Homo sapiens: one gene and its partner. The protein of the gene in region 1 interacts with the protein of each later gene in a pairwise test. Each region holds a gene or a part of one and is shown in the gene's direction. Other genes may lie near its edges. The genes, in order: HEPH and GLRX3.

Region 1 (17,742 bases):
GAAAATGATAGGCCAATATCCCTAATGAACATAGATGCAAAAATCCTCAACAAAGTACTAGCAAAGTGAATTCAAGAACACATTAAAAATAATCATTTCATGATCAAACAGGATTTATCTCGGGGATACAAAGGCAGTTCAACAAATGCTAATCAACAATTGTAATACACAATATAGAAAAAAATAAAGGATAAAAATCATATGATCATCTCAATAGAAAAAAAATGGAAAAAATCCAATATCCTTTCAAGATAAAAACTTACAACAGATTACATATAGAGGGAATGTACCTCAACACAAGAAAGGCCTTATGTGACAAACCTGTAGATAACATCATTCTCAACAGTAAAAAGTTGAAATATTTTCCTCTAAGATACGTTCCTTTAAGGAACAGGACAAGGATGCTCACTCTCACCACTTCTTTTTAACATAGTACTAGAAGTTCTAGCTGAGCAATTAGGCAAGAGAAAGAAGTAAAATGCACCTTAATAGGAAAACAAGAAGTCAGATTGTCTCTATTTGCTGGTGACACGATCTTATATAGAGAAAACACTAAAGACTCTACTAAAACACTATTAGAACTGAATCCAGTGAAGTTGCAGAATACAAAGTCAGCATACAAAAAGCAGTAATGTTTCTATATAGTAATAATGAACAATACAAAAAGGAAATTAAGAAAGCAATCCCATTTACAATAGAAACAAAACATTAAATACTTAGGTGTAAAACTGAGAACTATAAAACACTGATGAAAGAAATAGAAAAAAAAGCACAGATAAATGGAAAGATATTCATATTCCATGTTCACGAATTAGAATTAATGTTTTGTTTTTATTTTTAAAGTAATTTCTGGTAACATTAGTTTTGTAAACTATTAAAACATTACAGATTTAATGATACACAGACAGTGTATATACATACACTCTCTTCTACCCCTTAGGTTCTTTACATGATTTTACTAGTTTGTGTCTTTGTATGTGTGTACTTCTGTGTATGTTTTACATAAATGACATATCTTGTGTAATGGAATGTGTAATTATGCAGTTTTATGTATTGTTTCATAGCTGTACAATTATGTATGTTTATAGTTGTACACGTACATATGTTTTACCTAAAGAAAATATGCAATATTAATTAGCATATTTTTGAACATAAGTGGTATATCATTTTGTGCCTGCTCCAGTCAGTCTGAAATGTATATCTTTGTAACACAAAATTGACTTATTGTTTTTCGTTGTTGATGCTGTTTTTTAATCTAATCAGCATATTATTTTTTCCTATTATTCTATTATGAAAAATTTCAACAAACAGCAAGCTTGAAAGAATCTTACAGGGAATGTCCATATACATATTGCGTAGATTCTACCATTAACATTTTACTATGCTTCCTTTATCACATCTATGAATCTATGAATTGCTGTATTTAGCCATAAATCCATCTTAAATTTTTTGCCTTGTTTTAAACTGTCACATAGCATTTTGTAGAATTGTGGTAACATGGTTTGTCTGAGGTTTATTTCTATTACATACAATGCTGCAATTAATATTCTTGTCTATTTGTGCCCATTTCAGTGAATAATTAGGAGCAGGAATTTCTGTAATATACATAGTAAATATATTTTAAATATTTAGTAGATACTAACACATTACTTTCCACAGTAGTTCTACCAATTTATAGTTCTCATTAGAGTATGAGAGGCTTGTTTCCTCACTTACTTTCACACGCCTTCGTCAATTTCTAAAATGTTTTAAAAATGCCCGTCAATGTAGTGGATTGGCGATGGATTTTGCTACTTTTATTTGCAATTTGTATTTCTATGATTACTAGTGATTTGAGCTTCTTTCCATGTTTGATTGTCCACTTTGGTTTTTGTTTTCATTCTTATCCTTTGACTATAATTTCACTGGGTTATCTTTTTCACATATATTCTGAATAGTAATTATCTGTTATATATGTGGTGAATAATTTTCCTTGTTTATTGCTCATCTTTCCACTTTACTTACGTTTTTGTGTACAGAACTATTCCATTTTACATTTATATGGCCCTTTTAGTTGATCTTCAGGACAACCTGTGAAGTTAACAAGCAAGATGGTTTTATCCTCATTTTATAGGACTCTAAATTGTAGAGAGATTTTTTAAAAAAAATCCTGTCCAATAACAAGCAGCTAGTGTGTGTCAATAGCAGGACTCAGAGTTAGGTCTGTTGACCCCTGTGTTAGTTTCCTATTGCTACTATAATAAATTAGTAAAAACCTGGTTTCTTAAAATAACATATGTTTATTTATTTGGGTTTTTTCTTCAACTTTATTTTAAGTTCAGGGGTACATATGCAGGATGTGCAGGTTTGTTACATTGGTACATGGTGGTCTGCTGCACAGATCATCCAATCACTTAGGTATTAAGCCCAGAATCCATTGACTATTCTTCCTGATGCTCTTCCTCCCCCTACCCGTCCCTACCTCCTCCAACAGGCCCCAGTATGTGTTGTTTCCCTCCCATGTGTCCATGTAACAGCATGTATTTTTTATCTTATAGTTTTAATAGGTTAGAAGTCTAAAATGGGTCTCACTGTGGTTACTTCTGGAGTATCCAGGGACAATCTATTTACTTGACTTTTCTAGCTTCTAGAGACCTAAATTCCCCACTTCATGGCCCTCTTCCTCTATCTTCAAAGCTAGAAACAGTGAATTGAGTACTTCTCATACTTCATTACTCCAACCTTCTCTCCTATTTCTCTCTTCTACTTTAAATAACCTTTGTAATGATACTGGACCTACCCAGACAATCCAGGATACTCTTTCCATTTTAAGAACAGCTGATTATTAATGTTAATTTCCCTTTGCTATGTAATATAACACATTCACATGTTCCAGGGATTGGAACATGAACATTTTTGGGAGAGGCGTTATTCTGTCTACCTCAACCCTCAATCCACTGTCTTTTTCACTTAACAGACTAACAAGTAGCCAGAGGAGTAGTAGGGCTAAGATCAATAGGTTTGGAAAGTAGGGTTGAGAAGGGACACAACTGCCACTACCTAGGATATACCTTTTATTGTGTTCACATTTCTTAGAAGAGCAGTTGTATTTTAAGAATGTCTGGGTGTTCTGTATATGAACAGAGTCAGGGTTTGAAATTGCACACAATTCATTTTTTCATAATGGTGAACTTTCCATAGAGTCTCTCATGCAAACACAGAGTCTGTAAGTTGTGATCAGACACTTATGCATGCCTTCTGGATGTCTGTGGGTTCTAATCCAAAAGCCTGAGTCACAGAACCTTGAAATATGAGAGCTGAAAGGGACCTCAAAGGCCAGCTAACACAAGGCTCTTATTTTCCATGTGAGAGGACTGAAGTCCAAAGAAGGGAAATAGCCTACTCCAGGTAACACATAGGTTTGTGGCAGAGAGGACTGGAATGAAGTCCTCACTATTGTGCCCAATTATATCAAACTAAGTTGTCATTTTGGAGAGGAAGCATGGGATTTTTTTAGTCCCTTAAATAATATCATGAACATGATCACTTCCTTCAACCAGTGATTAGGCCAGCCATCATAGAAGCATTTTCTAACACGGTTCTGTGGGGATGAAGAAAGTATTGGGCATGACAACAAAGAAAAATGGGGTTCGAAAGTCAGAACTGCATTGTAGGTGCCCAAGGAAAAAAAACACTCTCCAAAAGACAGCTACTTCTTTTGCTGTGAGAGGAGGGCGAGACGGCACTAACTGGCATTTTTGCTGAGGAGTTCTAAATTCACTAGAAAAAGGAACCAATGAACAGAAGGTAGAAGGCAGCATATATTTGGCTATTTAATATGGGAAAAGATAATCTAGAGTTGCCTTGAGAGATAATTGAGTGAGTTCTCAGTTATTACATGTATCCAAGCAAGAGTTCATATAGCCATTTGGAAATGATGCTGTGGATATATTTGGGAGTTTTCAAGTTAATTTTACCAAAATTTATTCCTTCAAATGAAAGGCTATGTGGCTGCATTTACCCATTTAATGTGTATCCATTCTATTAAATGGATAAATGAAGCCTTCTGAAGAGCCCTATGAGGCAACATAATTTGAAAGCAAATGACAACCATGCCTTCTGAGGCTTCATTTTGTTCACTATTCTTCTAACCCAAGGTAACCAAGGATAATTTGGGGGTTAGGTGCTTAGAGGAATAGGACTGGGCCAGTGGATGGATTGATTGGAAAAGTACAGGGGTTGGTAGTGACATACACACAGTCCTTTTAGAAACAAACTTGGTCAAACAATGGAACTGTCAGGTACAATCAAGTCAACCTTTTAACTAGAAAAGCCTCAAGTCATCTTCTGAAATGTGAAGTTAACACGCACTTTTTTTTCTAGTAGGATCTTGCTGACCTTGAAGGTCAGCTCTAAGGCTGCTGTCTTATTCTTTCACTAATCATTCATGTATTCATTCATCCAGCAAATATTTATTGAGCACCAACTCTGTATCAAGTGCTGTGCTAGGCATTGAGGCTACAGTAGGGAGCAAGAAAAATGTAATCCCTGACCCCACAGAGCTTCCATTATACGGTGAGGAGAGAGTTAAGCAAACAATTTCAACAAATTGTTGTTAGATGTACGGGGTGACTTGGGAGCACATCACAGGAGGACCTCACCCAGAAGCATAGAAAGTCAGGGAAAACCTCTTAGAGGAAGGGACTTCTAAACTGAGACCCAAAAAATGAGTGGGTGAATGAATAGGTGAAAAAGTGATTGAGGCAGATGAAACAACATATCAGAATCTGTTGGAGGGAAGAGAGAGCACCATGCACATTGGAAACTGACAAACTGACAGACCTCTGGCATGGGTGGGACGCATTGAGTGTGAGGAGAGGAAGGGCAAGCAGTGACCTAGAAAGATTAGGAAGGGCTGGGCCATAAAAATGCCATATAGGCCATGTTAAGAAGTTTGATCTTTATCCTAGTGAAATAATAAGGAATTAATTTTCTTAATGTAACAGATATGAGTTTCTTGAGAGAATAGAAATACAAAGAAGACAACAAAAGTGGCTTCATATTCACTTTCCAAGTGACCTTTTTTTAAAAACAAAAGTAACTAATATATAAGGCTTGAAAATCTAAACAGTTCAAAACGAAAAATGAAAGTCACGCTTCCCCCAACCAAGTTACTCTCCCCAAGGAAAACCACCATTAAGAATATTTTGTGTTATTTCCAGAAGAAATATTCATTGTCCCCTCATGTAAGTATGTATATATGTGTGTGTGTGTGTGTGTGTGTGTGGAGATATCTATATCTCTATGTATGACCAATCACAATATGCTCACTCTTTTGCACCTTGCTTTTTATTTAATGACATATATTGAAAATATTTTCATATGTGCATTCACACACACACACACACACACACATATACGAAATATTTCATCAGTTTGAGTGTCATCCTTACTAGAGAGTCTTACTAATATCATTATTATTCCAACTTTAGTCAATAAGGGAGGCATTGCTGGGGGATTTTAAGCAATAAGGATTTACAACCACTTTTGTGTTATGGGAAAAATAGCTTTGACTGTTATTTGAAGACCAGATTATGGGGGGTCAAGAGTGGAGTCATAAAGAATTATAAGGAGGCTATTACGCTGGTCCAATTAAAAGATTATGGTGACTTAGACCAAGTCCATGGCGGTGGAGATAGAGAGAAGTGGGTGCATTGAGAAAAAGATGTAAAATATAAATATGACAGGACATATCAATGAAATGGTTGTAGAGAGTGAGAGAGAAGAGAGTAATCTCAGATGACATTCAAGTCTCTGGCTTGGTATATAGGAATGAGAATGCTAATTATGTCATGCAGTCGTTCAGGAGGCTTATTCTGAATGATATTCACCCATTGAAAATATCCTCTCCCTACTCTAAAATGTTATATCACATTGTAGAGACCTCTATTCTCTTACTTACTATGTCTATTTATAGTAATGAAACATTTTATTTGTACATTGTTTTAGCCTTCTTACATGCTATGTACTCCTTAGTAGTGTGGCTGGAAGTAGGCAGGTATGAGGAAAATAGAGGAAGAAAAAAAAAGACTAACATTTACTGATCATTTACTATGTAACAGGTGTTACACAGGGCCATTTTTCAGACATTGCATTTTATTTTCACAGCCTGATTTTACAAATAACAAAATGGAGGCTCAGAGCACTCAAGTGACTTCCCCAAGATCATACATTTTAGGGAGAGACAGAGCTAAGATTCAAACCAAGTTTGTCCATGCCCAGGGCCCACCATCAGGAAGCCAAATGAGAAAGTATAGAAGAGTTGGGAGGAACAGCTGATGCCATGTATAGAGCTGCTCCAGGCAGGCAACAGAGAGGAAAGCATGTTAATTGCACAGGGAGAGGAGAGGAAGCTTCACCCAGGCAAGCAGAAAGATTCTTGGGCAAAGGGAGTGGGGAAATAGGTGTTGGGAGGACTCTCAGGGAGACGCCACATGAATGAGGTACCAGGAAGCTGAATAAAATATATTTTTGACCTAGGGCCAAAGAGTGAATACTCAAAGACCAGGTGAGTCTGGAGCTAAAGAATCAGTCTGCAGATGCAAGTAAGCTGGTGGTGGTGGGAGGTTGGGGGGTGAGCTTCAGAGCAAGCATCCCTTACAGCAGTGGTCCTCAAACCAGCAGTGGTCCTCAAACCAGCAGCAGCAGCATCCCCTGGGAACTTGCCAGAAATGCAAGTTCCTGGGCCTCACCCAAGACTTACTGAAGCAAAAACTCAATGCCTTAACAAATCCTATAAGGGATTCTGGTACATGTTCAAGTTTGAGGCCTACAGCCTTGGAGGACTAGGGAAAGCAGCAAGTGGAGTTCAAGAGCCAGAGTACAAGAACCAAACAGTGTACCCAGAGCAAGCCTAGGGCTGTCACACATCACAGCAATGCAGAGCAACCTTTCCAAAGCATAACAGAGTCTGCTGGTCAGAAGTGGTGGTGGGGAGTGGCTTCAGAGATGTGGTTTCTGGGGGACAACCCCCTCTTCCCTGCACCCCTCCACCTTTCCCCAGAGGTCTTCTTTTTAAGAAACTGCTAAGGGCAAGCTCATCAGAGGATCCTGAGGTAAAGGGGTTAGACTGTCTGTGCCAAGGCACTGCCCATGGCTTTTAATTTTCTCCTGGTACCTGATACTGTCACAAAATTTAACTGTGGAAAATATAGGAAGGAAAACAACATTTACTGGGGGTCTGAACATGCTGAGCACTGTGCTAAGGGTTCACACAAATGCCAGCTGATTTAATCCTCACAATATTTCAGTCATGGAAGTGTTATTATTCCTGTTCTGCAGATGAGGGACCAGAGGCTCGAAAAAGTTAAGTGATTTGCCCGAGGTCACATAGCTCAGAAAAAGGCAGCCAAGATACAATCCTTAGTCTTTCTGACTCCAAATGCCATGCTTCTCACCCTAGACCATGTTGACTCTAATGTGAAGGTCCCTGGGGTCCTCTCCTCTTTGTAGCCACCCCAGGGCCATGTGTTATTGATGGCCCATAGATGAGTAACCTGGAAATATTGGTTGAATGAATAAACGAAAAGATGTTCTAGTGACAGAGTTTAACACATGAAGGACCCTTAAGGATATTCTGGTCTTACGGTTTTCCAATCTGTTTTTAGTGTCCTAGACATTTCTTACTGGTGCTCCAGACACAATCACATTGTCTAGGAAACCAGTCATACCCAGTGGACAGGTTCCTCTGTCTCTTCACCCTTGCCCATTTCTATCTCCTTCCCTGCCTTACCTAGAACAAATCACTTTCATCTTCCATAAGTAGTGGGTGTTTACTAAGATTCTGTTTGGGGAAAGGGTTCTGCTGCCAAAATTAATTTTGAGAAACCCAAATCTAGACCACCTTTTTCATGTTATAGGTGAAGAAACTGAGTGATAGAAAGGCAAAAAGACTTGTCCAGGGTCACTGTGTGCTCTTTAGTAGCATAACTAGAATGTGAAGCCAGGATTCTTGAAACATTCTTCTTTTTTGACACAAGTTAATACAGTTTGTGTCCTAACGAGGAAATAATTATTTAGATTTCAACAATTATTTAGAATTGAAAAATTAAAAATTATAACTCTAATTTTTGCCTTTACTATGTTCCAGTTATTGTGCTAAATAGTTAATACGTATAGCCTTATTTAAGTTCTTATAACAGTCTTATAAAATAGGTAATATTATTATCTCCATTTGAAAACTGAGGTTTAGGGGGATTAAATTACTTTAATCATAGAATCAGGAAATGGCAGAGTTGGGATTTCAGTTCAGAATATCTGATTTCAGTTTTCATGCTCTTAACAGTGATGCCATATTGCAAATGTCTATATTGAAAAAAAAGTCTATTTAGCCTGCTGCTTGTTTTGTAAATTAATTTTTATTGGCACAATGATATACCTTGAGAGCTACAAAGACAAATTTGTGTAGTTATGGCAAACAGAAACTGTATGCTCTGGAAATAAATGATTTAGTAGCTAGCCCTTTATAGAAAAAATCTGCCAACCTCTGGTCTGTAGACACCAACTTTAAAATGTTTTTCAAGTGACCTCCAGGAGAAGGAACCAGAAATGTACCCCGGATTTGCAGAAAAGGTGGGTGCTGTTTGTACTCTCAGTGAAATTGGTGAATGAATAATACAAACCTGGAAACCTGGCCTACCTGGCCTCCTGCAGTCTTCACTGTGTTGATTCAAGTCTATTATGACCTGTTCTTGTTGTCTTTCATGAGTCAGAGCAGAGGCCTTATCCCTTCCCCTCCCTGTCATAAATGCCTTAGAGCTTGGACTTGGATCTCAGCTTAATCAGTTTTGTCTCCACTTCCCCTTTCTTGCTTCAAGGTTCACATGTGTGCGAGGCAGATAATTCTAGGGGCTGCCATGGCTTGGCTAAGCTTCCCTTGACCACTGAGCATTTCTAAGGGAGTTGAGGCTGGTGGCTCCTCCTTCCTTCCTACTGGTGCTTCCACCTGCCTTGGTCTGAGTTGCAGTCCATGGGGCAGCGCCTAAGTGTCTGAGCACACTTAAGAATCTCTAGTGGTTTATGACCCAGACTTTGCCCTACCACCTCAGTCTTCTGAATGTTCTCTTCCCTGGACCCTGCTCCAGACACTTTAAATTCAGAAGAGGAAAATGTGCCCAGCCTGCCTGGAGAAAAGTGTCTGCTCCTAGCCAAGATCTCCTCATCACAAAGTAAGAATATCAGGTGGTGGAACCCCCATCATACCTGTCCCCTTCCTATACCTGGGTCTGTTGGGTAGATGCAGTCCTTTTTAGAGAGGCATAGTATTCTCAGACCTGTCGCCACAAATTGCTCCCCACTCATTCTTTCCCTATACTTTGTGTCTTTGAAACCTCTTTATCTTCTATGTTTAATATCTAGACTATACTTTCTTCATGGAATTCTAGATGTGTAAATTTACAGGGCTGGGAGGGTCCATATCTAGTTTAAGACCCTCATTGTAGAAATAGAAAGAGGCCCAGAGAAGAGAAGGGAGTGGGCCAAATCCACAAAATCCACATAGCTGATTACTCCTAGAGCAAGTGGGGCGAGAACCTTGGTCACTTGACTCAGGACAGTGACTTTTCACTCTTCTCTCTTTCCACCAGGAATGGGAATGACCTTTGACTTTAAACAAATCCAGACTCCAGTTTTACCCTGAATTGTTGGGGGAACATTTTGTTTTTTTTTTCTTTTTAGTATTTTCAATTCTTCCATGTCTTAGTTTTTAGGGTGTTGACCTGTGTTAATCCAGGCTATCTTCTAGCTATATCTGGTTTCCTCAGGTGGAAAATGTTAAATATAGTTAATATAAAATTTCACTCTAGAATCTGCTAGAAATGACGGAGGCAAAGTTAATGTATATATAAAAAAATCCACCAGTGACTGGTGGCCAGTAGGCTTTCAATAATTGTGAAGTCCCTTCTACCCCCTTGAAAGTACTGTGTTTCTCCCCTAAGCAGCACATTGTGTGTGGTGGTTTCATGGTTAAAAGTTTAGACAGACCCAGCAAATCTCTCTTCTCTTTTACTTCCTAAGTGTGTGACCTTGGACAAGTTACCTTCCCTCTCAGAGCTGAATTTTCCTCAGTTGTAAAATAGAGAGAATTAGAGTATTCATCTCACAGGATAATTGTGAGACTTAAATAAGAGAATGCATGTAAAATGGTTAACATAGGGCTTAGAATGTAGAAAAAAAGTCCTTTGTTTTATTGCCAATTTTATTTTTACTTATGACTAAGCAGCCATGACCTCAGAATAATAGTCAGGGCTGACAATTGTGCTTCAGAGCAAGAAGGGGAAGAGGTGGTGAGATGGAGGCTCTTTCAATTTCTACCTCATTTCTTAAATGGAGCTGTTGAAATCTACCCATGAGCTTTGGCTGGCCACACTGACAGTGTTCTCCTCTCAGCAAAGACCAATTAGCAAGTCCTGATAACAGAAGTACAACCCACCCCCTTGTAATTCCTCCTGAGATCCTAACCAGGATTTGTAAAACACCCGGATATGGGTAAAGAACCATCCCGGGTTTTGTATCAAACCAGGCCCCAGAGGAACAGGACATTCCAGTAGTTTTGTTTCTGGAAAAGAGGGCACCCAGCCCTTCCCCCTCCCTCATCCTCCCATCCCAGTAAACCCTGCCAAATTGGAATCCTGGACTTAATTTAGGAGAAAGGCCCTGTAACCAAGATACTGACTGAACATGGCTGGCGGACTCAGGCTGGGGTCTGCAGTGCAGCATTAATGGGCCGCTGACATGAATATGGAGTAGTTTTCTCTAGCAAAGGTAAGCTTTCTTTTCTCTCTTTTCAAACTCTACCTCACCTGCCTTCCTGTGCAAAAACGTTTATTTAGCTGGGTTTAAGGGAGTCCTGGCCACTAGGAGAAAAAGTCAGTGGCCAAAAAGTTGGAGGAGGTTTGGCTGATGTGCAGGAAAGTTAAAGGAGACAATAGGCTCCTTTTGTTCCTCTCGCCAAAATAGCCAGGACTACACTGGCTTGTCTGTTTCAGGGCCAATCCTGGAGCCATACAGAATAGTTCATTTTCCTGTCGAAATAGCTTGCTCATCTTCTGTTTCACAGGTTGAGGAATTTATTGAGGTGATGGATCTGAGGATTATGTAAGTGGGAACTCAGTTACTTAAAAATAACCATGTTTGGTTTCATATTTTGAGACCAGATTGGCACAGAGTAAGCCAATAAATGATAGCTTAACTAAGCTAAACATCTGAATTTGAGTAGTCTTAGTTTCTACATAGCAAAAATCTTTTAGAAATCATTGGTTCAAATTCTGGCTATTTTTAACAACTGGCTGCGTGACTTTGAGCAAATCCTTGCACCTCTCTGGTATCAGTTTTTTATACATCAAATGAGGGTGATTGAAAAAGATGGTTTCTAAAGGTTTCATGCATGTGTGAATCTATAACACGTTCAGTTTTTCATTACTCAGCATCTATTATATGACAAGCAATCCTTTTGCTAGGGACTCAAATATCCATGGTTTTATTTGGGCCTCAAGACAATCCTGTGAAAAAAATATCATCCCATTTTTTGGATGAGATGACTAAGGCTAAAATAATTTATTGAAAGGTCACATAGCTATCACAGACAAGAGATAGGATTTGAATCAAGGTCTTTAACTTCAAATCGGTATGTTTTCTATCACAGAGTTAAGAAAGCAGAGGACCAAAAGGTGAATTTTGATGGAGGGTTTATTAGGAAGGCTGCTGAGAGATTGAAGACAGGGCCCCAAAGATGGCTCAGCATTCCTTTATTCAGTTGAGTAATCCTTTGTTTAGGATGAGCCTGTCTAGCCCAAAGTAGTATAACTGAGAAAGGGAGATGGAGGGAGAGAAAAGAGCATTGTCGCAATAAAGGAACAGTTTGCAAATTCTAGGGAACACAGCAATGCAAATTGTTATGAATAATAGGGACCAGACCCAGGTGACACTGGGATGGCAGGAAGGTAAGGTAAAGGTAAGGGAGGCTTAACTTTATATTGGCTGATCTTCTCTCCAGGTTGGCACAAGGTTTCAGTATATCTTAACTAAACTATCCAAATAGCCTAGAATTTTTCTTTCTTTTTTCCTTCCTTTGAGTGCCTATTCCTTCTGCCTTCCTTTTTATTTTGTATTTTTTACTTTTTTCCAGGATTCTTTCTCAACTTACTTATTTCATTTCTCCTTTTATTTCTTCCTGTTCTTTTTCCTCATCAGTCTGGTTCTTCTCTATGGGCTTAGCTGAGAAAAAAAATATCCTTGCCCAAGTGAAAAGCTTACACAGGGCTTTCACATCTTTCATATTATTTGACCTTTATTACAAACTAATGAGGGGCCCAAAGTAGAGACAATCCTCATTTAAGACATGAGGAAACTGAGGCTCAGGAAGTTAGGGACTTGTTCAAGGTTATATAACCAATAAATGATGAATCCAGAGCTAGAACTTACTATTTTCTGGTGCCTGAACGCTTTCCACTGTACCATGAAATATCTAAGTGGTTATATTTTATTTTATTTATTTATTTTTTGAGACCCGTGTTTCACTCTTGTTGCCCAGGCTGGAGTGCAATGGTGCGATTTCGGCTCACCACAACCTCCGCCTCCCAGGTTCAAGCGATTCTCCTGCCTCAGCCTCCCGAGTAGCTGGGATTACAGGCATGCACCACCATGCCCAGCTAATTTTTTGTATTTTTAATAGAGATAGGGTTTCTCCATATTGGTCAGGCTGGTCTTGAACTCCCGATCTCAGGTGATCCACCCACCTCGGCCTCCCAAAGTGCTGGCATTACAGGCGTGAGCCACTGTGCCTGGCCTAACATCTAAGTGGTTATAAAGGATTTTATGGGTTTTTCATTTTTTCTGCTCTTTTAGTATATGATAAAACCAAATTAAACAGCAGCAATAACAATGACAAATTCAAATTTGAGGAGGATAGAAAGGATGTCAATAATTAGAAGGAAGAAAAATACTTATCAGGTGCCTACTAAGTCCCAGCTGCTGCAAAAATTTATCTTATTTAGATATAGAGTAAAACAGTACTTAAACCTAAGTTTGTCTGACTCAAAAGTTCTAGTTCTTTACATTATACCATGTTGTTTCCAAGAAGAGAGTTCAGCTTGGGCTGTGTGCATTTTCATACCTATGTTTATATTCCTGTATGCTTAGAATGTGTTACCATATATGGGAATTTATGAGTGTGCACATATTTATTGCTATTCATAAAATGGAAAATCTTTATGGCCCTGGCAAGTTTCATTTCCAAACTATTTCCTTACTTGCAATAGTAATAGCCACTAATACCTTTTGATCACTTACATGTGCCCTTAAAGTACTTACAGATCTTAATTAAGTTAATCCCCACAAAACTCTATGAGGTAGCTAATAGTATTAATACCATTTGAAAAATAAAGACACTGTGGCTAAATAAATGAAGAAGTTTCCCAAGTCATACAGCTAGGAAAAATGGAGCCAAGATTCACTTAGGTAGCCTGATACCAAAGCCTGTGCCCTGGATGCAAAATCGAGTAAGTATTCCTTATCTCTCAAGATCTTGAGAATTATATAAGATGGCAGATATGAAAAACACATTGTAATCTGGAAACTGCTAGGGGTATGTTAGGTGGCATTTCCCACCACTCCCCAGATTCTATTGTTTAAGCCATTTGGATCATAAGTCACCACTGTTGAATGCTTGTTCACTGTATGCTGATGGCCTGTACTAGTCTCTCCCAGGAATATTTTCAGTTTTATCATGTGTTTCTCCAGTTGTGGAGCTCTTGCCTGGGACAGTTTTCTGTCTAGGTAAATGAGTTCAAGGCACAACTGCTTTGTTGACACCTCTCTGAGAAAGAAGATTGAAAGGGGTCCATGTTGCATTCAGACTTGGAATGAACCGAGGACACTCCCTCCCTGTTGAGGATTCCAAGGCATGACTATTTGTGTGACCATATATAGAGCTATGTGTAGGTGTATGTGAGTACGCCTGTGTTTCATCAGTGAATGTAAGTATTGGCAGCATGTGAAAGCTGGAAGGACTCTTTGAGAGCTCATTACATACCACATTTTTATGGTTCTGCACTTAGATTATCACACTTCTGTGACTCCCTCAAAAGGTAAGAACTATATAGTCCAGCTTTATATAGTCAATTATTTTATAGATGGGAAAAATGAGGTGAAGAAACTTGCCTAAGTTCACCCTGAACAAGTATTAGAACTTGAACCAGACCCAACTGATGGAAAAATGTATACTTGTGCTTCTTTATGTCACTTTAACAATAGCTGTTATTGCCCATCTACTTGGCCTCCATCGCCATGTCGTAATAGATACACAGCGACCTCTAAAAAATGACATTCTCTCTCAAGGAGTGTGTAGTCCAATCTGGGAAATGAAGACAGTTCATGAGGCAGGTCATGAGATGGAAAGGTAACAATAATACAGAGTCTGACTTAATCTAATTGGGTGCTATAGACAGTAAGTAGCCCTGCAGAGGACAGTGATATGAAGAGGCTAAAGGTGGCCTTCTGGAGCAGTTAGTATTCAAATTAACCCTTGGAGTAGGAATATAGAAAGTATGATGGATGTGAGACTGTAGAGATGAATTAACAAACTGCAGCCAGGAGGGAAAAGGAAGAGGAAGGCAACCAGTAGTTACTACTGCCTACTATGTTCCAAACATGGATTATACTTGTCCGTTTCATGTAAGCTTTCTGATTTATTTCTCCAGGGCTGATATTATTATACCCATTTTACAGATGAGAAAACTGGTTCTGAGTGGTTAAGTAATCCCCAAGGCTACACAGCTGGTCAGTGGGAGAGCCAGGTTTTGGAAAAAAGGACCCCAAAACAGATCCTCTCTTACATCAAGAGCTTTCTGCCAAATATAATATGGAATCTAGGGATTAACACTTGGGTCACTGCTGCGTATGGAGAGGACTGAGAGTTTGTGAAGTAGTCTATAAGTTTATTTCTTAAAAAGGGTAAATATCTGGGGATTTTCTATCCATATGTGAATCTGTGCATATATTTGATTCTCAATTTTTTATTAACAATGCCTATTTCATATGCTTGGGTTGAAGATTTAGCGAAATAATTTATATAAAGCACTGGACATGGTGCTACTATGTAATGATCTGTCAGTGAATAGTAGCCATTATCATCATTATCATTAATATAATCTATTAGTTATATCTCTGCCTACATGAGTATGTATGTCTGTTTGTAAAGTGATTATAACTGCATGTAATTGCTTGTTTCAGAATGTATGTGTTTTTTCATAGATATGGCTGTTGCTATAGGCATATGTATGTTCTCTGTGTATATACATGTGAGTGTGCAAGTATATTTTTGTGGAAGGTAGTACAGCATGGTGATTATGCTGGAGCCACACTTCCTGGGCTCAAATCCCAACTCTACCGATTTTTATCTAGATGGCCTTGGGCAAACTGCTTTACACCTCTCTTCTGAAGTTTCTCCATTGTAATATGGGGATAATAATGGTGTCTACTTCATAGGGTGGTTGTGAGGAATAAATGATTTAATCTGTGTAAAACATTTGGAACAGATGTACCATGCACATACGATAAATATAGCTTTATTATTATTATTCTGAAGTTGACTAAGATTTTATATAACAGAGTGATTTTATGTGTAAATGGAAGTGTGTGCATCTCTGCTTTTAGGTAAGACTACATGTACCTGTGTGTGCAAGTTTATGTATTTATGTGATGTTGTCTGTGTTTCTGTGTTTGACTGTAACTGTGTATGGTATCACTGAGTGCTTCGTCCTAGTCCCAGGAAGTCTAACGTCCTGTCTTATGCATTGAAGTGAGAGGTTAGAATCTTGGGTCTGATTCTGACTCAGGATTAGACCTATGAAATGAATTTATGAATAGCCTTGGGAATCAGCAGACAACATTTCTTCTGAGAAGTTCAAAATACTTCCCTCACATACTGTCATTTATTTTTGGTTCATTGTTAACTTTTGAAGTATAATACACATAAAGTGCACAAATCGTGTTTATAGCTCAATGTATTTTCACAAACTGAACACGCTTTTACAACCAGCATGTAGATCACAAAACAGAGCATTACTTAGAAGCCCTCCTCTTCCCTTCCCAGTCACAGAATCCTACTTCAAGGCAAACATTATCCTTACTTCTACCAGCATAGATTACATTGGCCTGATTTTGTACTGTATTTAAATGAAATCATACAATATGTACTCTTTTGTGTCTATTTTTTTAAACATTACATTTGTCATAATCATTCATATTGTTGTGTGTAGTTGTAGTTTGTTCATTATTATTGCTATAAAGAATTTCATTTTATGAATAAAATGCAATGTATTCATTCATTATAGTGTTCACGAACATTTTGACTGTTTCTATTTTGGGTTTATGAATATTCTAGTAAATATTTTTTAGTAAATTCTCACTTGTTGTTAAGTACAATTTATAGAGGATAGGAAGTGGCAACAACAATGAGTGTTCCCCTTTTGCCTATGGGAAAAGAGAGGCAAAGGGAGAATTAGTGTTAGTGGCCCAATAAGGCTTCTGGTGCCTGTTTCCTGATTCTTGGGACAGAGCACATTCTTCCTGCTACACCATTGAAAAAACTGGATCCAGATCTCTCTTCTGAAGGAACTAGTAATACATGATTAGCAGCACGGGTGACTTTTTAACTATGCCCTTCAAAATCCAATCATTGAAAACTTATTGAATTAAAAGGAATCAGGTAAGTTAAAGAAACTGGGCTAAATGGGTTTTGCTTTCTCAGTCACTCAACCTGGCTCTTGCCTCTTCAGTTTTCTGGACACGTAGAAAGCCCCTTTGTTCTCTTTCTTCTACACCAGCAGTTTTTATTTGCCTGTTTCCCAGAGTAATGTGGGCCATGGAGTCAGGCCACCTCCTCTGGGCTCTGCTGTTCATGCAGTCCTTGTGGCCTCAACTGACTGATGGAGCCACTCGAGTCTACTACCTGGGCATCCGGGATGTGCAGTGGAACTATGCTCCCAAGGGAAGAAATGTCATCACGAACCAGCCTCTGGACAGTGACATGTAGGTTTAATTTCTTGTGGTATTTGAGGGGAAGTTATGGGAGCACTCTTGAGGTCAGGAAGTAGCCTCTTGAGGCCCCTTTCCCAGGGTGTGGTAGCAGCCAGCTCCTGATTGCTCCGAGCTGTACATACTCAGTGGCAGATTTCCTGGGAAGAAGGCTAGTTGAGTCAGAAGCCAGCATTTCATCTGGAGTTTGCCGTAACATTTTTAGAGTCCTAAAGAGAATTCCATATTTGCTGTTTTCTAATCTCATACCCACAATGCTTACTTATTTAATAACAACTGTTTGACTTTAAAAAAGAATAATGAAATATATACAGTGTTTGTAAGATGTATGGGTGGGAGCTATGCTTCTATAGTTTGGTGAAGCTACTGTATATTTATTTCAGATATGTGAAAATGTGAAAAAAGAAAGTAAGCCTTAGAATCAAGGAATTAATGGTAATAATTCTCACTTATGTAATACTCTGTGACACAGACCATACTAGAAATTTACATACTTTGTCTCAACTCTCACAAAAACTCTAGAAGGTAAGTATGTGTGTAGTTATTTTATAGATGAGAAAACTGAGGCTCAGAGAGGTCAAGTGACTTATCCAAGTCCTATAACTAGTAAATGAAAAAGATAGGATTTGAACCTCGATAATGAGAATGTAAACTAATACTCTTCTCACC
Region 2 (15,838 bases), on another chromosome or scaffold:
GGCTAGAATTATGTCGGAAGGAAAATTCAGCATATTTGGAGTAATAATTTAAAGGGCTCCGAGTGAGCAGAGTGTAGGAAGTGGAGTTCATGGACTTGTGACATGTATTTTGGCAGTACTTTGTGAGCTGTGGTTCCCTGTATCCAGGTGACTGGGTTAGTTAGTTGGGTTGTCAGGGTCAGCATTGTATTCCTATATCTGTTCATATTTTTCTGAACTTGAGCTAATCCCACTCGGTTGGCAATGTAAGTGATACAGCTTTGTGCGTGATTGATGCATTTCATTTGGGATGAGTTTATAAGGATATTTATTATTATTTTTTTTTGAGACGGACTCTGGCTCTGTAGCCCAGGCTGGAGTGCAGTGGTGCTATCTTGGCTCACTGCAAGCTCCGCCTCCCGGGTTCACACCATTCTCCTGCCTCAGCCTCCCGGGTAGCCGTGACCACAGGCGTCCGCCACCACGTCCGGCTAATTCTTTTGTACTTTTTAGTGGAGACGGGGTTTCACCGTGTTTTGCCAGGATGGTCTTGATCTCCTGACCTCGTGATCCACCTGCCTCAGCCTCCCAAAGTGCTGGGATTACAGGCGTGAGCCACCGCGCCCAACCTCTAAGGAGATTTTTGAGCTGTGAATTGGGAGAACATGGTGGCGTGACCCCATGGGGCTTAGGTTCTTTAGTGACCCGTTGTCCCAGCACTGACTTTTCTTGAGATTTGTGACTAAACTTGTGGCTGTATACAGATAATTAAAATTCCTGACAGCATGTTAGATTATGATGTTTGAAAGACTATATAAAATATAAAACATGTTAAGATGAGAGAATTTGATTTTAGTATCTGGCATTAGTTGATGTTCTGAGGTTTAACGCTGTCACCCTGCAGTCCGACCTTGTGAGCTTTACACGTGTACAGTGGTATGCAGCATCATGATGGAAGATGGTGCACACAAGATCTAGTTCTGGAAGTTTTGGATGGGCTTAATATATAGGCCCCTTATTGAACAATTCCTTACTGAATTGGTTATTATTATTATTTTTTTATTACTGTGAGTTGATGGGCTTAAATTGCAACTTGAAGGAACATTCGTTGCCTTAAAAGCCATATTGTGTTTTACAGTGGCTTAGGGAGAGAATGAAATCAAGGAAAATGTCAACGCATTTGCTTGTTTAATACCACTCAAAGCTGTGAACTGTCATCCTGCCATCCCTCAAATATGCATGTTACTCACGAAGCGGAGGAAAAGTGGTGTTGCATAATTGAGCTGAGCCGTTTTATATCAATTTTCTCTCTTTAGGCTCAAAGTGCTGACAAATAAAGCTTCTGTGATGCTCTTTATGAAAGGAAACAAACAGGTAAAGAACTCAAAAATGGTTTTATTTGTAATTTCTTTTGATGTTAACATCTGCAACAAGGGGACAGTTAAATCTTTTTCCTAGCTTTAGCTAATGAAGCTGTAGCGATATCAGGAAGTTATCCACGCCTTAATTGGTGCTTACGGAGATCAAACAAAGTAATCTACATTTTGCTTGACTTTATCATCAACATCTCAGTGGGGTGCATTTCTTTCTGCTGCCAAACTTTGTCAGCTAATGTGGTCAACACTGTTAACACTTTACTGGTTGTATGAGTTGTTATGTCATTATCCTTTGTTTGAGTTTGTGGACTGCTGAAGTGTGCAGCTGAGTCAGTGGACTTCCTGAATGCAGGGAACCTGGTCGTGCTTGGGTTTGCACCCCTAGATCGTCCTTTTGTGACAGTGGAGGAGCAAACCCTGGCTGTAGCAGGTGTGCTCTGTGTGTTTGATGAATGAGTGAAATGGTCAGCAATTCTCATTTTTAATGGGATGGTTCTTACAGCTTTTTGATGTAAGTACATATTGATTATGCGTCATTTTGAATATCAAGTTTGATAGATTACTTCCACCGATAGTTTGAGCAGAACTAATTTTCTTTCAGATTGAGATCAGAGTGGTAATTTCCAGAAACCAGCCATACACATTTATATCATATTTTGTAATTTTCATAGCAATTGAACCTCTACTTAATTCTCAATCAGTTGTTGAAGTAGGCAGGGTTGGACAGACTTTGGCCTGTTTTAGAGATAAAGAAACCAAAGTTTTGAAAGGTGAGGCTGTTGGAATAAAGAAACTGCCTCACTTGTTAGCAAGATGCACCGGGCAAGTGACATGGAGAACCACTTTGCTCATTGGGAAAGGGACACAATACTTCACAGGGCAGACTCTGGTTGCCATAACTAGTGTATAAGTTAACATAACTAGTATAATGAAGCTAATTAGTTAACATAACTGGTTAATATAATTAGGTAATAATGAAAGTAACAGTAACAAAGAAAATGTTAATATAAATTTCAGCATGTTGGAAACATTAGGTTAGGGCCTAAATTCTTTGATTTTGGTTCAGTGTATTGAAACAATAGAGGAAGTTAATAATTCCTAGTAATGATAAAGTGACATTTTTTCTTATTCTCGGTAATGGTTTAAGTGGATATTTATTCTCAAAACTATTTTTTTCTGGAAACCTAGAAAGTATTAATACATTTTGGAAACAATGTTATTGGGGCTATTAAAATGTTGACATGGTACCATATCTTTTCCACAAGATTGCTGGAATTTGGAGTCCTGTGGCATGAAAAAAGCTTAAGATTTTCATAAACTCAAAAAAGTGTTAGTATTCTGTAATGTAAAAATAAATGAGGCTGGATGCGGTAGCTCATGCCTGTAATCCCAGCACTTTGGGAGGCCAAGGCAGGTCCGAGGTCAAGAGATCGAGACCATCCTGGCTAACATGGTGAAACCCCATCTTTACTAAAAATACAAAAAGTTTGCTGGGCGTGGTGGCGCATGCCTATAGTCCCAGCTACTCGGGAGGCTGAGGCAGGAGAATCGCTTGAACCTGGGAGGTGGACATTGCAGTGAGCCGAGATCACACTCCAGCCTGGGGACAGAGTGAGACTCTGTCTCAAAAAATAAATAAATAAATAAATAAATAAATAAAATAAAAAGAAAAATGGGAGTCAGAATCCAGTTGGAAATGGGAAAATAATTGTCATAATCATTGCAAAAAGGCTAAGTGAGTTAAGATCATTTTGCATGAGTGAATTAAACAATGAACTCAAATCTCTGTAGAAAATCTCGGTTTCACTTAGAGGAACTTTTTGACCACAGAGAATATAAACTGTTGGAACACATGTCATCTCAAGTGGTTACAAACCAAAGGAAAAGGAAGTCTGTGGGTCACGTGTGCCTGGGTTGATGTGTAGATGGGTTCGTACTTGAAGAGGGGATGAGCAGAAGCTCTGGGAGCTGAGTGAAAGTAGTGGCAGCTATGCTGGACAAGTGCTGTGCTGGTTGACAAGAGTATTAGGTACAACCATGCTGCTTGGGTCATACAAAAATTGTAATCTTTGCAAATTTTTTTTCATTTAGGAAGCAAAATGTGGATTCAGCAAACAAATTCTGGAAATACTAAATAGTACTGGGTATGTAAATGTTGTTTTCAAATGGTGTATTAAAAAAATTCCAACCTGGCCAGGCGTAGTGGCTCACGTCTATAATCCTAGCACTTTGGGAGGCTAAGACAGGAATATTGCTTGAGCCCAGGTGTTCGAGACCAGCCTGGACAACATAGTGAGACCCCATCGCCACAAAAAATAAAAAAATTAGCCAGGCATGGTCACATACATCTATGGTCCTAGCTACTTGAGAGACTGAGGTGGGAGGATCACTGGAGTCTTGGAAGGTGAGGCTGTAGTGAGCCGTGATTGCACCACTGCACTCAGCCTGGGTGACAGAGCAAGACCCTGTCTCAAAAAAAAGAAAAAAATATTTCAACTTTTCAGTTCTGCCACTGATACTTTTCAGTTGTAATGTCTATATCCATACATATCTGTATCTTTCTTTATTTTTTGCTGTATTGTTTTGTGAATGCCTTAACTTAGATCAAAATAGTATTTTCTGGCCAGTGTCAACCTATTAGTAACATAAAGGAGGTCTTTAGGCCACCTTTGGAATAACTATTTGTCTACTTTCCCAGAGGAAAATGTATAACTGAGTCCTCACCATGCATAAAGATATTTCAGGGGAATATATTATAGGTAGTTTTTAATTTTTCTCAAATATCCTAGTTGCTAAACAGTACAGAAAGCTGAGGGGCACATATTAAGGTCCATTACCTGGATCTGAGAGGTAGCACAAGTTAAATTGCAGTGCTCCTAGTTTTGATGTGCTCAGTGGTGAAGCTGTCAGGTAAGAACATTGCCATTGATTTTTGTGGTTAAAAACAAAAGCACTTATTTGGAGATATACAGCACATGTTCTATAGGGTTTGTCAGATATTTTTGTTTATTTCTCATTTCATGATTGTATCTTTTAAAAATCATGTATTCTAACTGTAGCTTCAAATAAATTACTTTCAAGTAATCTTTGATATACTTCAAAGATCTATTGAAAATAGTTAAATAGTACAGGTTGAATACAATTTCAGGGACATAAAAAGAATATAGGGCCAGGCACAGTGGCTCACACCTGTAATCCCAGCACTTTGGGAGGCTGAGGTGAGTGGATCACTTGAGGTCAGGAGTTCGAGACCAGCTTGGCGAACATGGTGAAACCCCGCCTCTACTAAAAATACAAAAATTAGCCGGGTGCGGTGGCGCACGCCTATAATCCCAGCCACTCAGGAGGCTGAGGCCTGGAGAATCACTTGAGCCCAGGAGGTGGAGGTTTCAGTGAGCTGAAACCACGCCACTGCACTCCAACCTGGGTGACAGTGAGACTCTGTCTCAAAAAAAAGATGTGGTTGTCGTCTTTAGATTACTATGACATTTTATAGAAGCAAGTATAGTCAGTTTATTGTAATTGTAACTTCAAGCCTGTTCCTTTCTTCACCCCTGCCCTGGGCCATACAGTGGGGGCTGGCTTGTTTTTGGTCATTTTTGATTTTCCCCTTTCTTTGTCGACCCTCTGCTGCGGGTCCACAGTGAGACACACACAGTCCATCCCTCTCTAGCAGTACCAGGTTCCTCAGGTGTCTTCTGAGCCGACACACTGGGCCTGACTCAGCTCGTGTCTTTGGTGGAACATCTTGGTAACTTGGCTTTCTGTCCCATATCTGTCTAATCTCCATTGTATTGAAAGCACCCTGTTGTCGCAGAGAGCAGGAGGATGCTTTGGGAGAGCATGACCTCCCAGCTCTGGACTTGCTAAGCGTGATTGGCCCTAGGATGAGTGAGGCCATCCAGGACCTCAGCTTCGCTTAACACGAGCAGACCATGCTCTTGCTGGGCGCCAAATGTATGTGGAGAAAACTCCTTTTTACTTTTTCTCATTTCTTATCTTTTCCTTTAGTAGCCAAAATACACATGCATGAGTGGTTGAGAACCAAGTGTATATTGAGGTTTGAAAGGTACCCTTTATGAATAACTTTTAGGAAGTATACTGGCTGTTAGGACTCCACATACATACACTTGGGCCCAGTGCTTCCTGGATCCTTTATGAATAGTTGTATAACTCATTGTTTTTATCACAGTATTAAGAGATCTGCCACCTTTAGTTCAACTTGAACAAAGACTTACATTGGGGTTTTTAAAAAGCATTAGGTTTACATTGGGGTCTTTTTTTGTTCTTCTTTCAAACATTCCTTTTTTGGTAATTGCTTCTGATTTATCCCGTCATTTAGTTTTTTTGACTGTTCCCTGTACCATAGACAGTTTCCTTGGGAACTTGTTTACTAAATAAACAAGATTTCCCTATGATGGTTTCAGTTTTATGGAAAGTCCAGTTTTTTTTACATGTAGCATTTTCTTTGGCCACCTTTGGGAATTGCACCTGTACCCTCAGGCACCCTGCAAGGATTTAGGCATACATGCTTGCTAATACCTGACCACCTAACGGTGAAATCGCTCTGAGTGGATACAGTTGGATATTCATGCAGTGATTTTTCATTTTTTGTACAAGTAATGTTCATTGTATGGTATAAAGCCACAAAGCTTTCATTGGCCTTTTGTACATTAAAAACAGCACCCTCTCTGAAATAAGTTTAAGTGTGGAAAGCATGTCTCTTGCTAAGGTGGAGGGAGCTGGCAGCGTGGTTGTTATCCGGCTGCTGAGCCCTCCAGCCTCCGTCCACGAGCACTACTACATCCTGCTGCACGGGCAGCTTCCAGGAGGTTAAGAAGCAGCAGCCTGGGGTGGGTTAGACATTAGAAGTGGGTAAGAGTGTTCAGTTAATGAAGGCTCGTGCAGATGGGGGTGTGGGTCTGATCCAGGGGTTGGCAAGTTGCAGCTGGCTGCCCATTTTTGTAAATAAAGTTATATTGGCACATAGCCACATCCCTTCATTTATACATTGTCTGTGGCTGCTTTTATGCTGACAGTTGCAGCAGAGAGCAGAACTGAGCAGTTGCAGCAGAGACTGTCTGGCCTGTAAAGCCTGAAGTGTTTAGTGTCTGACTCTTTAAGAAGAAGTTTGCCCACCCCTGGTCTAACCCAATATTGTCCGGAGAAAAATCCAGATAAAGTCATATGTTGGAATGACTAATTCTGTGTAGTACCAGACAGATTAAGAAGTAAAATCATTTCCATTGGTCTGTAGTACATTTTGTTAGCAGTGAAACGGTTTTCTTGATTATTTTAAAAACATCAAATGCATAGAGGTTTTACACTTTGATTTAACTGTATTTCCAGTTAAAATGTCTTCTCTTTTTTGCAGTGTTGAATATGAAACATTCGATATATTGGAGGATGAAGAAGTAAGTTCTGTGTTTGATGTTTCACCCTTGTCTTAGCTTTAATCTTAAGGGCCTGATAGGATGGTTTCAGGATTCCTGTTGTTTCTTTAGGTTCGGCAAGGATTAAAAGCTTACTCAAATTGGCCAACATACCCTCAGCTGTATGTGAAAGGGGAGCTGGTGGGAGGATTGGATATTGTGAAGGTAAGGCCAGTTCTTCTGCTGTTCTAAAGAACGGAAAAGATTTTGGTATGTTTAAAAATGATTTCATATTGAATGGAAACTTGAGAGTTGTTTTTGACTCCTGTTTCCAGCCTGACTCTCAGACATTTCTAGACCAGTATCACCGTTTCTGTGTGCATGACTACCCTGCCATTCTCACTGTCCCCACGTGGCAGCCTGTTCTTACTTTCACACCTGAGCTAACCATTGCATCTCCTTTCTGTGGGGTGATCTTCCCTGTCACTCAGGGTCCTTGTTAGATCCTGCTTCAGCTCCCAGACAACAAATTGTTTTTTCTTGCCTTACTCATCTGCCCTTGGGTGCATGGAGTGACAGCAGTGTGAGGCCTGTGGCCCGGTGCTGCCCATCCTTGCCACAGAGGCTGAGGATCACTGCCCCTGGTCCCCCGAAAGAAAAAATGTAGGTCCTTTTTGGTTTTGAGATGCTTGGAAATCTGTTATCTGTTAGATTGTGTTTTAGATAAGACACCATTTCTTATGTATCTTGAGTCCTTCCTGATGCTTTGTGTATTTTAGGAGTTCAGTAAATGGTTGTTGGATGGATAAGTGACTTTACTTCTTGATTGAGTTTTAAATGGACGTTACTTTGCATGTATTTAATGTCTAGAATTCAGGGCAGGCCCACCAACTAACACCTGTGTGCTCTGTAGCTCTTTGATTAGCCCAAAACAATAAACAGAAGCTGTAGCTTTAATATCTACACACAGACCCCACTGCACCCCAGGCCCACTGTGGGCATGGTGGCATCGAGGAGGGTGGTAGCTGGTTGGGTATAGAGAGGAGCTAGACAGGAATGCTGGGCAGGAATGCCAGGGTCTGCTCAGGGGCATGAACAAAACTGCCCCGAAAAGTGGGTTGCTGACTGCCCTCAGGCCTTCCTCTTGCCTCAATCCATGAGAGAATTTTCTGAGGTCAGATCTTCGACTTTTTATGTGGAAAACAAATAGCAAGTAGTACTACTTCTAGTTATGTTGTAAAATAAAAGTTTTTTTTTTTTTTTTACATTTTTTTTTGAGAGAGTTTCGCTCTTGTTCCCCACTGGAGTGCAATGGTGCAATCTCGGCTCACTGCAGCCTCTGCCTCCCAGGTTCATGTGATTCTCCTGCCTCAGCCTCCTGAGTAGCTGGGATTACAGGCACCCGCCACCACGCCCCACTAATTTTTGTATTTTTAGTAGAGATGGGGTTTCACCATGTTGGCCAGGCTGGTCTTGAACTGCTGACCCCAGGTGATCCGCCCACCTTGGCCTCCCAAAGTGCTGGGATTACAGGCATGAGTCACCGCGCCTGGCCAAAATAAAAGTTTTTAACACGTGCTTTTGTAAAGTGAAGCACTAGCCTACCACTGAAATGACATCAGCACTTTGGACCAATATGTTTTATAAAAACAAAGCTTGAGTTCCATTGATGCAGAGGCTCTTTTTGTCCTTTGGTGGCCTCTGTGTAGGTTTTGTTTCCTGTGGAGTTCCAGGTTTGATATCATACTTCTTAAACAAGCCAGTGAGACATTTTTCCTGGGGAATGGTCTCACTCCTGGAGGAAAAAATTTTTAAGACTATTGCTCTTGAATAGCCCTGAAGCAGCAGAAACAGATCTGCATTTGTTTCTTCCCTCCCTCCCTCCTTCCCTCCCTCCCTCCCTCCCTCTTTCTCTCTCTCTCTCTCTCTATATATATATATATAGTCTTATTTTTGTAAGACACAAAGAATACTCAAACCCCAAATACTCTTGAGCCTGTTCTTGTCTGAATGTTTTATAGCCTGTACCTTAGCCATTGGTAACTCTTGGGAAGATACAATCAATAAATCTCATTTAATTCTAAAGCTAAGCTGCGTGGGTAACTTCTTTTTAGTTATATAACAGAGTGTTATATGATTTTTTATGTTCACCTGCTAAGAACATATACGTTTGAAATGTGTGATATTGTTAACGTTTTTCCTTGAGAAGATATATGGAATAGATCTTACGATCCCATTTTGATCTGTTTCTTGCAGAATGCAGTTCTTCATGTTCAGTTCAATTAAAAGATGTTTGAAATGGTCTAATCTGGCTGGCCTCTTTGGAGCAATGAGCGTTTGTTTTGTTGAATGAGGGACTGAATGATGATTTAGTTACTCAGCTAATCTAGTGTCCTGAGAAAATTGTGAGTTGTTATTGCCTCTGAAGAGTAAACGGTTCACTACTGCTGTTCCAGAATGTTTGGACTTAAGACAGTTTGTTGAGAGAGATAGAAGATTTGGTTAGGTTTAGACTTTCCACCTGCCGGCTCGCATTAACAGCAGTGAGGGTGGCGAGGACTGCCTTATTTGGCGCGCTCCCAATGTTCCAGGCACACTGCTTTGGTGCTTTAAGAGGCTGCTTCACGTAATCTCCCAAGCAGCCTCAGAGAGCAGAATTCTTCTTAGTCAGTAGATGAGGAAACAGAGACATAGAGAGGTCAGGTGAATTGTCCACCATCCCATAACTAGTAAGCCATTGAGTCCAGATTCCACCTGAGGGCCACCTGCCCTTGCCCACTCAGCTGCGTGGTCCTCTCCGTGCCTTCTTGAGTGTGTGCTCAGAAAAGTCCTGCTGGGTCCCTTGGAGGGGCAGGGTGTCTGCTTGTTGAGTAGGTAGAAGAAGATCCCTAGACATGACTGAAAGCCGTCTGGGTTTTGTGTGACAGCATCATTCCTATTTGAATTTCATCCAGAGGAGGTCATACGGATTTTAATGGTTTTATTGATTGATGTTTATGCTGTTCAGTGATAACCTGAAATGTTATATCATACTAAATGTTTCTTTAAACCAGAAAATCTTATTTATCATGTCTGTCCTTTCAAGCTTGGTGTCTATAATCCAGATTTTAAATCTGAAAAACAGGCACAAGGAGCATGGCGCCTGTACTGCAGTTCCAGTCAACCTGGTGGTAGCTCTTTTGATGCCATGTCTGTTTCTGAATTGTTAGGTCTTTTTAATGGTTTCTGCCTTTCCCTCTTACTGGTACTCTAGCTTTTCCTGAGGCAGAGATGTGTTGCCAGGTTGGGTTTCAATAGCAAAGCCTGATTCCTCTCTGTGAGTGGAAGAACGGGAGGGGAACAAGCATCATATTTGAGTAGACTTTTAACGTCACACTGCTTTTTTTTTCTTCCTTTTTTTCGAGACAGAGTCTCACTCTGTCACCCAGGCTGGAGTGCAGTGGTGCAATCTTGGCTCTTGGGTCACTGCACCCTCCACCTTCTGGGTTCAAGCAATTTTCATGCCTCAGCCTCCTAAGTAGCTAGAATTACAGGCACATGCCACCATGCCCACCTGGCTAATTTTTTTTTTAATAGAGATGGGTTTTGTCATGTTGGCCAGGCTGGGCTTGAACTCCTGACTTCAAGTGATCTGCCCCCTTGGCCTCTTAAAGTGCTGGGATTATAGGTGTGAGCCACTGCGCCCAGCCACATTACTTCATTCTTCAACCTTGAAAGTCACTTGATTTATTTTCCTTATTTATTGCTACAGTTTAAATAGGGGCTTCATTGGCTCCAGTTGCTGCGTTTCCTAATACTAAACAATCTGTTGGTTTTAGGATACCTTAACTTCATTTATTTATTTATGAATGAATGAATGAGATGGAGTCTCGCTCTAGCCCAGGCTGGAGTGCAATGGCACGATCTTGGCTCACTACAATCTCCACCTCCCGGGTTCAGGAGATTCTCCCTGTCTCAGCCTCCTGAGTAGCTGGGATTACAGGTGCCCGCCACCATGCCCAACTGATTTTTGTATTTTTAGTAGAGACGGGGTTTCACCATGTTGGCCAGGCTGTTCTGCAACTCCTGACCTCAGGTGATCTGCCCTCCTCGGCCTCCCAACGTGCTGGGATTACAGGCATGAGCCACTGCACCCAGCCTTATTTATTTATTTTTTAAGAGACAGATTTCACCATGTTGGTCAGGCTGGTCTTGAACTCCTGGCCTCAAGTGATCTGCCCACCTCGGCCTCCCAAAGTGCTGGGATTACATTTGTGAGCCACCACACCTGGCCAAGAATACCTTGTTAAATTTTTTAACCTGATAGTGTATTCAGGGTTTATGGCTCATTTAGTTTGAGAGTGTTAAGAGACTGGAGTTTTAATCCAATAGGTGTTTCTTTTGGTTCTCAGATATACATACAAGCTGTGATTGTTTAGATGTTTCCATCTTTTTATATATGCATATACATATTATTATTGTTGTTTTTTATTTTTAGGAACTGAAAGAAAATGGTGAATTGCTGCCTATACTGAGAGGAGAAAATTAATAAATCTTAAACTTGGTGCCCAACTATTGTAAGAAATATTTAATTACATTGGGAGCAGTTCATGATTTAGTCCTCAGAAATGGACTAGGAATAGAAAATTCCTGCTTTCTCAGTTACATGTTTTGTGTATTTCACAATGTCGTGCTAAATAAATGTATGTTACATTTTTTTCCCACCAAAAATAGAATGCAATAAACATCTTCAAATTATTAACAATAATTGTATGAAAAAAGTGTATCTTTACAGCAGTATTAAACATACAGCTACTATAATTAACCCACCTTAAATCTCTTTTTCTTAGTACATGAGTATCTTCTAGCAGTTAAGAAAGGCAGTCTTCAGAAAATGGAGAACTGTGGCGGAATGCAGTACACAACAGTATTTAGGACAACTCCTTTGCCAACACAATGGCTCCCCTCGCTGGTGAAAGATCTCTTTACAGCTTAGGAAAAACAACGGAAATTAGTTTCTGATGTCATTGCTGAGCTCGGCACTGGTTACATTGCAGAGGCAGTGTAGGATGTCTGCAGGTTTAGAGACTCATTTCACAAGGCACCAGTAGTGAATTATCAAGAAACATTTAAGAGGAAAATGATTTCTCATTGAATATGGTACAACAAGCACTTTTTTCATAAGGTCTAGAAGAATGGGTAGTCATGACAAAGAATGGAAAAGTATTGTCATTTGTTGTAAGCATCACTACTTTTTTTTTTTTTTCAGACGGGGTCTGGCTCTGTCACCCAGGCTGGAGTGCAGTGGCACGATTATGGCTCATTGCAGCCTCGACTTCTCGGGGCCAAGCGATCCTCCTGCCTCAGCCTTCTGAGTAGCTGGGACCACAGGCGTGCACCACCATGCCCACCTAATTTTTTATTTCTTGTAGAGATGAGGTCTCCTGCCTCAGCCTCCCAAAGTGCTGGAATTTACAGGTAGGACCACCACACTTGGTCCACTTACTTATAATAAACATTGATTTGGTCGTTCAGGTTCCTTTGGTCCTCCTATTGAGAACAGTTTGAAGTCCATGAAAATTTTAACAATATTTTTGATCCTGAATCTAACATATTTGAAAAATAGTTGCTCCACTAGGCTTCCACAGTGCAGGCTTCAAATGGGATGGCTAAATTCACCTCATGGTTCTTAGTTTTTTTTGTACTTGTGGCACATTCTCTTCATATATTACCCCACCCTGTTTGTTTGGGCAGTTAAGATGCTGGTACTGTCTGGTGGCGATAAGGAAAGGGAAACAGAAGTCAGTAATTCAGACAAGAATAAACAGGATGAAATGCATCTATTCCTAGGTAAGATTAGCCCACCACCTCCACACTGCTGCTGTCTCTTCAGCTCAGGCTGTTTTTCTCTGTTTTGATTGTGTAAAGAGTAGAGTGCTGATTTGTGTGTTACAGAGGGTGGTCTGTACAAGTCATAAAGCTCGACATGGCCTTGCTTCCTGCTAGGTGTTAGGACACCCATGATGGTGGAGTCTCTTGGCATTCTGTGTAATTAGATAAGGCTGTTTATAGCATTGGTCCATGAGAACTTCCTTGTTTCTATTTAAAATGAAAATCATTGTATAAGTAAAACTTCTTAAATGTAGATAGAAATAGAATTTTTACTGAAATTTTATGAAGCCATTGGCCGCAGGGATGTGTGTCATGGAGGAGGGCTCCATACTTTTTTGGTATACTTATCTCAAACTTAATTCATTTGCATACTGCTTTTTCTCTAAGTGCCAACTGTCCTAGTATATTTTCTAAGTCAACTTTTACTTTCACTTTATCCTAAGCAAGAATATCTTTGGCATCACAGACTCAGTAAGCCTGTTTTTTTCTAATGCACATACAAATAAATAAAATGCACAACTTTTAACATAAATGGCTGCCTCCAATTTGGGAAATACTGTTCTGGCCAGAGGCCGTTGCTCTGATAATGTCATGTGGTTAGTGCATTTTAGGAAGACCTCCTTTCCCTTTGGTTGACTCCTGCAGGACATAAGATATCAGTGACGTTATCCTTTGTTGAGCCATCCTGGTTTGAGTCAGGATGAGTGTTGAGAGTTTTTGGGGAGTTGCCCCTGTGTCCTATATTATTTTATCCTCTTAAAGTCTGATGGTCTTTGGCTCCACTGACTCCAGGTAAGTTGGGGTGACAGTGCAGCATATTTCTATTTTCTAGTTGTTTCTGGCCAGACATGGGGAAGGTCAAGACATCTTGTTCATGCAAACGGATTGATGGCCATTCCTAATCTGATTTTATTAGTGTATTTTAGGAAGTAAAGTAAGATTCTTGAGCCCAGCTGAACTTCCCCTATTGAATTTTCTAACAAAAAGAGAGTTTGCGTATGGGTTTATAATTGAGCCTGCTCTTGTAGAAATGTTTTATCAGAATTGAAATCCTCTCTGATCCCCAAATTCTAGAGACAAAGTTGTTTTCTGAATTTGAGAAATCTGTTCAGTTCACAAGGAAAGGTGACAATGTGTCATTTGGATGTTGTCCCACACGTGAGGCCTCGTTGGGTGCTTGTGGTGGGAGGGACCCTCCAGGCAGGCTTTGTATGGAGGGTTTTCATGTCTGGACACATTTCTGTTCCGAGAAGCACTGCTGCGTTTTTGGGAGCGTGGACCCTGGCCAGAGCCTGTGGCCAGCTCTGCCTGCCCTCCCTTTCTTGGCCTGCTCTTTTGAGTATGTAGTGGGGCTTTGTGTGGCATCCTGCCAGGTTAAAGCTGCATGGTGCTTAGGATAGAGCTGGTGCTGTGGGGAGGCTCTTGATGATGGGGGCTGCCATCTATTTGCCTGTTAACTCTTAGAAACCAAACCTCAAATGTCAGAATTTCCTTTCTAGAAGAGGCTGGTTGAATAGGAACCAGAAAGGCCCTCATACAGGCAGGGCTGTTCACTCCTCTTGACTTGCGTGTTTGTGCCTTCCTTGTAGGAAGGCTTCTTAGGGAATTGTTATCTGTTTAGGGGAAATAAGCCTGCAGGAATGAACTTTTTTTTAAAATAAAAACTCTTGATCAAAAATGGAAAGAAAAAAACCAGTGAAACAGGCTAGGTAGTTTGTGGAATTCTCCTTTGCAGGTGAGGGGAGAAAGCAGCTATCTCAAGGGCACAGCTACAGATTGGGAGCTGGGGCTTCCATCCAGGGTCTGGGACACCCAAACCTTAGGCTTGCCCCTCCCGGGAGGCCTCCCCCTCAGAGCTATGTGGGATGCAGTTGCCTTTTTACCTGTGATGAGAAACTGGTGAATTGCCAGGATTCTGGCTCTGGCTTCAGTCTGCCCCTTTCCGGGGATTAGAGGGCATTAACCCTACTTCCTACAGCCAAGCAGCTCTTCCTCATGACTCTACTTTCTAACTCCGGGGGTTGACTGATTGATTTGAAGACCGCCTTGTTGATGAATGTGTTGAAACTTGCTATCATAATGTAAATGCTCCTTAATAAAATAACAGGACCTGGTGGGTTCAGTTGCCTTGCCCACGTGTGACTTACATGTTTTTGCCTTTTTTTGTTGAACACTGAGCCTTGCAGAACCATCAGGAAGTCCACCTTGGTCCCACTGGATTGATCATTAAGAAGGAAGGAAAAAAGTTATTTGCCATTTCCGTTCTTTACAAAAATGTCTTAAGTCTGCTGAGGAGTAGACTAAAAAATAGCATGTTTTTATAATTAGAAAGCCTCATTTTAATAACTTAAAAATGTTTAATCTCTGAAACAACTGTAATACATTTTAAGCGCTTGGTAATCATTATCTGCCTTATTGGAAAGAATTATACAAATAAGACCTATCTTGACAGTCAAAAGTTACAAGCTTAAGATTGCAATATGAAACATGATTTCTGGTTTAGTTTTTAAAGTAAAATCAGCTTTCTTTTCCTTTGTTTTTTGAGACAGGGTCTCCTCTGTCACCCAGGCTGGAGTGCAGTGGTGCAGTCATGGCTCACGGCATCCTTGACCTCCCAGGCTCAAGATCCTCCCCCGTCAGCCTCCTCAGTAGCTGAGATGACAGGCATGTGCCACCATGCCCGGCTGTGTTTTGATTTTTTTTTTTTGTAGAGATGAAGTCTCACTATGTTGCCCAGGCTGGTCTCAATCTCCTGGGCTCAAGTGATCCTCCCACCTCAGCCTCCCAAAGTGTTGGGATTACAGGCCCTAGCCACCATGCCTGACCTAAGATCAGTTTTCTTAAATTTGACAGTTGCTACTTTTCAAAATTCAAACCTTTCTAAATAAAAGTAAGTTGATTATTTGCAGATGAATTCTTGTTTTATACACATTTCAGATGTTGAGTTTGAGGACCTAGACCCTTCCCTTTTTGTCTAGTCACATTTCCTCACGGCCGTCCACTGATCGTTGAATCAGCGTAAATATGGACAGTTTCTCTTGAGTCTTTGGGTCTTCATTTCTGAAGGCTCCTGTGTCACGTAAGACTTAAATAAATCTTACGCTTTTCTCTTGTTAATCTCTTTTGTTATAGGAGTGTCGGCTGTGCCCCTTGTGATGGGTGAGGAAAGGTATCCACCTTTCTGAATCAGACACAAGCTGCAGTAGCTTCCTGATGCCTCATTCACCAGGATGGGTAACT

The links.
Region 2: the proteins of HEPH (region 1) and GLRX3 interact in binary tests that used the Homo sapiens proteins (3 or more experiments, as listed by UniProt).

The regions. Positions count from the first base shown.
Region 1 is NC_000023.11:66,153,671-66,171,412, forward strand, and holds the start of HEPH (hephaestin isoform a precursor), read left to right. Parts: upstream 1-10,576; 5' UTR 10,577-10,800; intron 10,801-14,079; exon of another isoform or gene 14,080-14,123; intron 14,124-16,862; coding exon of another isoform or gene 16,863-16,900; coding exon 16,901-17,067; intron 17,068-17,456; exon of another isoform or gene 17,457-17,598; intron 17,599-17,742. UniProt on the Homo sapiens protein: Plasma membrane ferroxidase that mediates the extracellular conversion of ferrous/Fe(2+) iron into its ferric/Fe(3+) form.
Region 2 is NC_000010.11:130,168,138-130,183,975, forward strand, and holds the end of GLRX3 (glutaredoxin-3), read left to right. Parts: intron 1-1,295; coding exon 1,296-1,353; intron 1,354-3,446; coding exon 3,447-3,499; intron 3,500-6,729; coding exon 6,730-6,769; intron 6,770-6,859; coding exon 6,860-6,952; intron 6,953-11,204; coding exon 11,205-11,255; 3' UTR 11,256-11,535; downstream 11,536-15,838. UniProt on the Homo sapiens protein: Together with BOLA2, acts as a cytosolic iron-sulfur (Fe-S) cluster assembly factor that facilitates [2Fe-2S] cluster insertion into a subset of cytosolic proteins.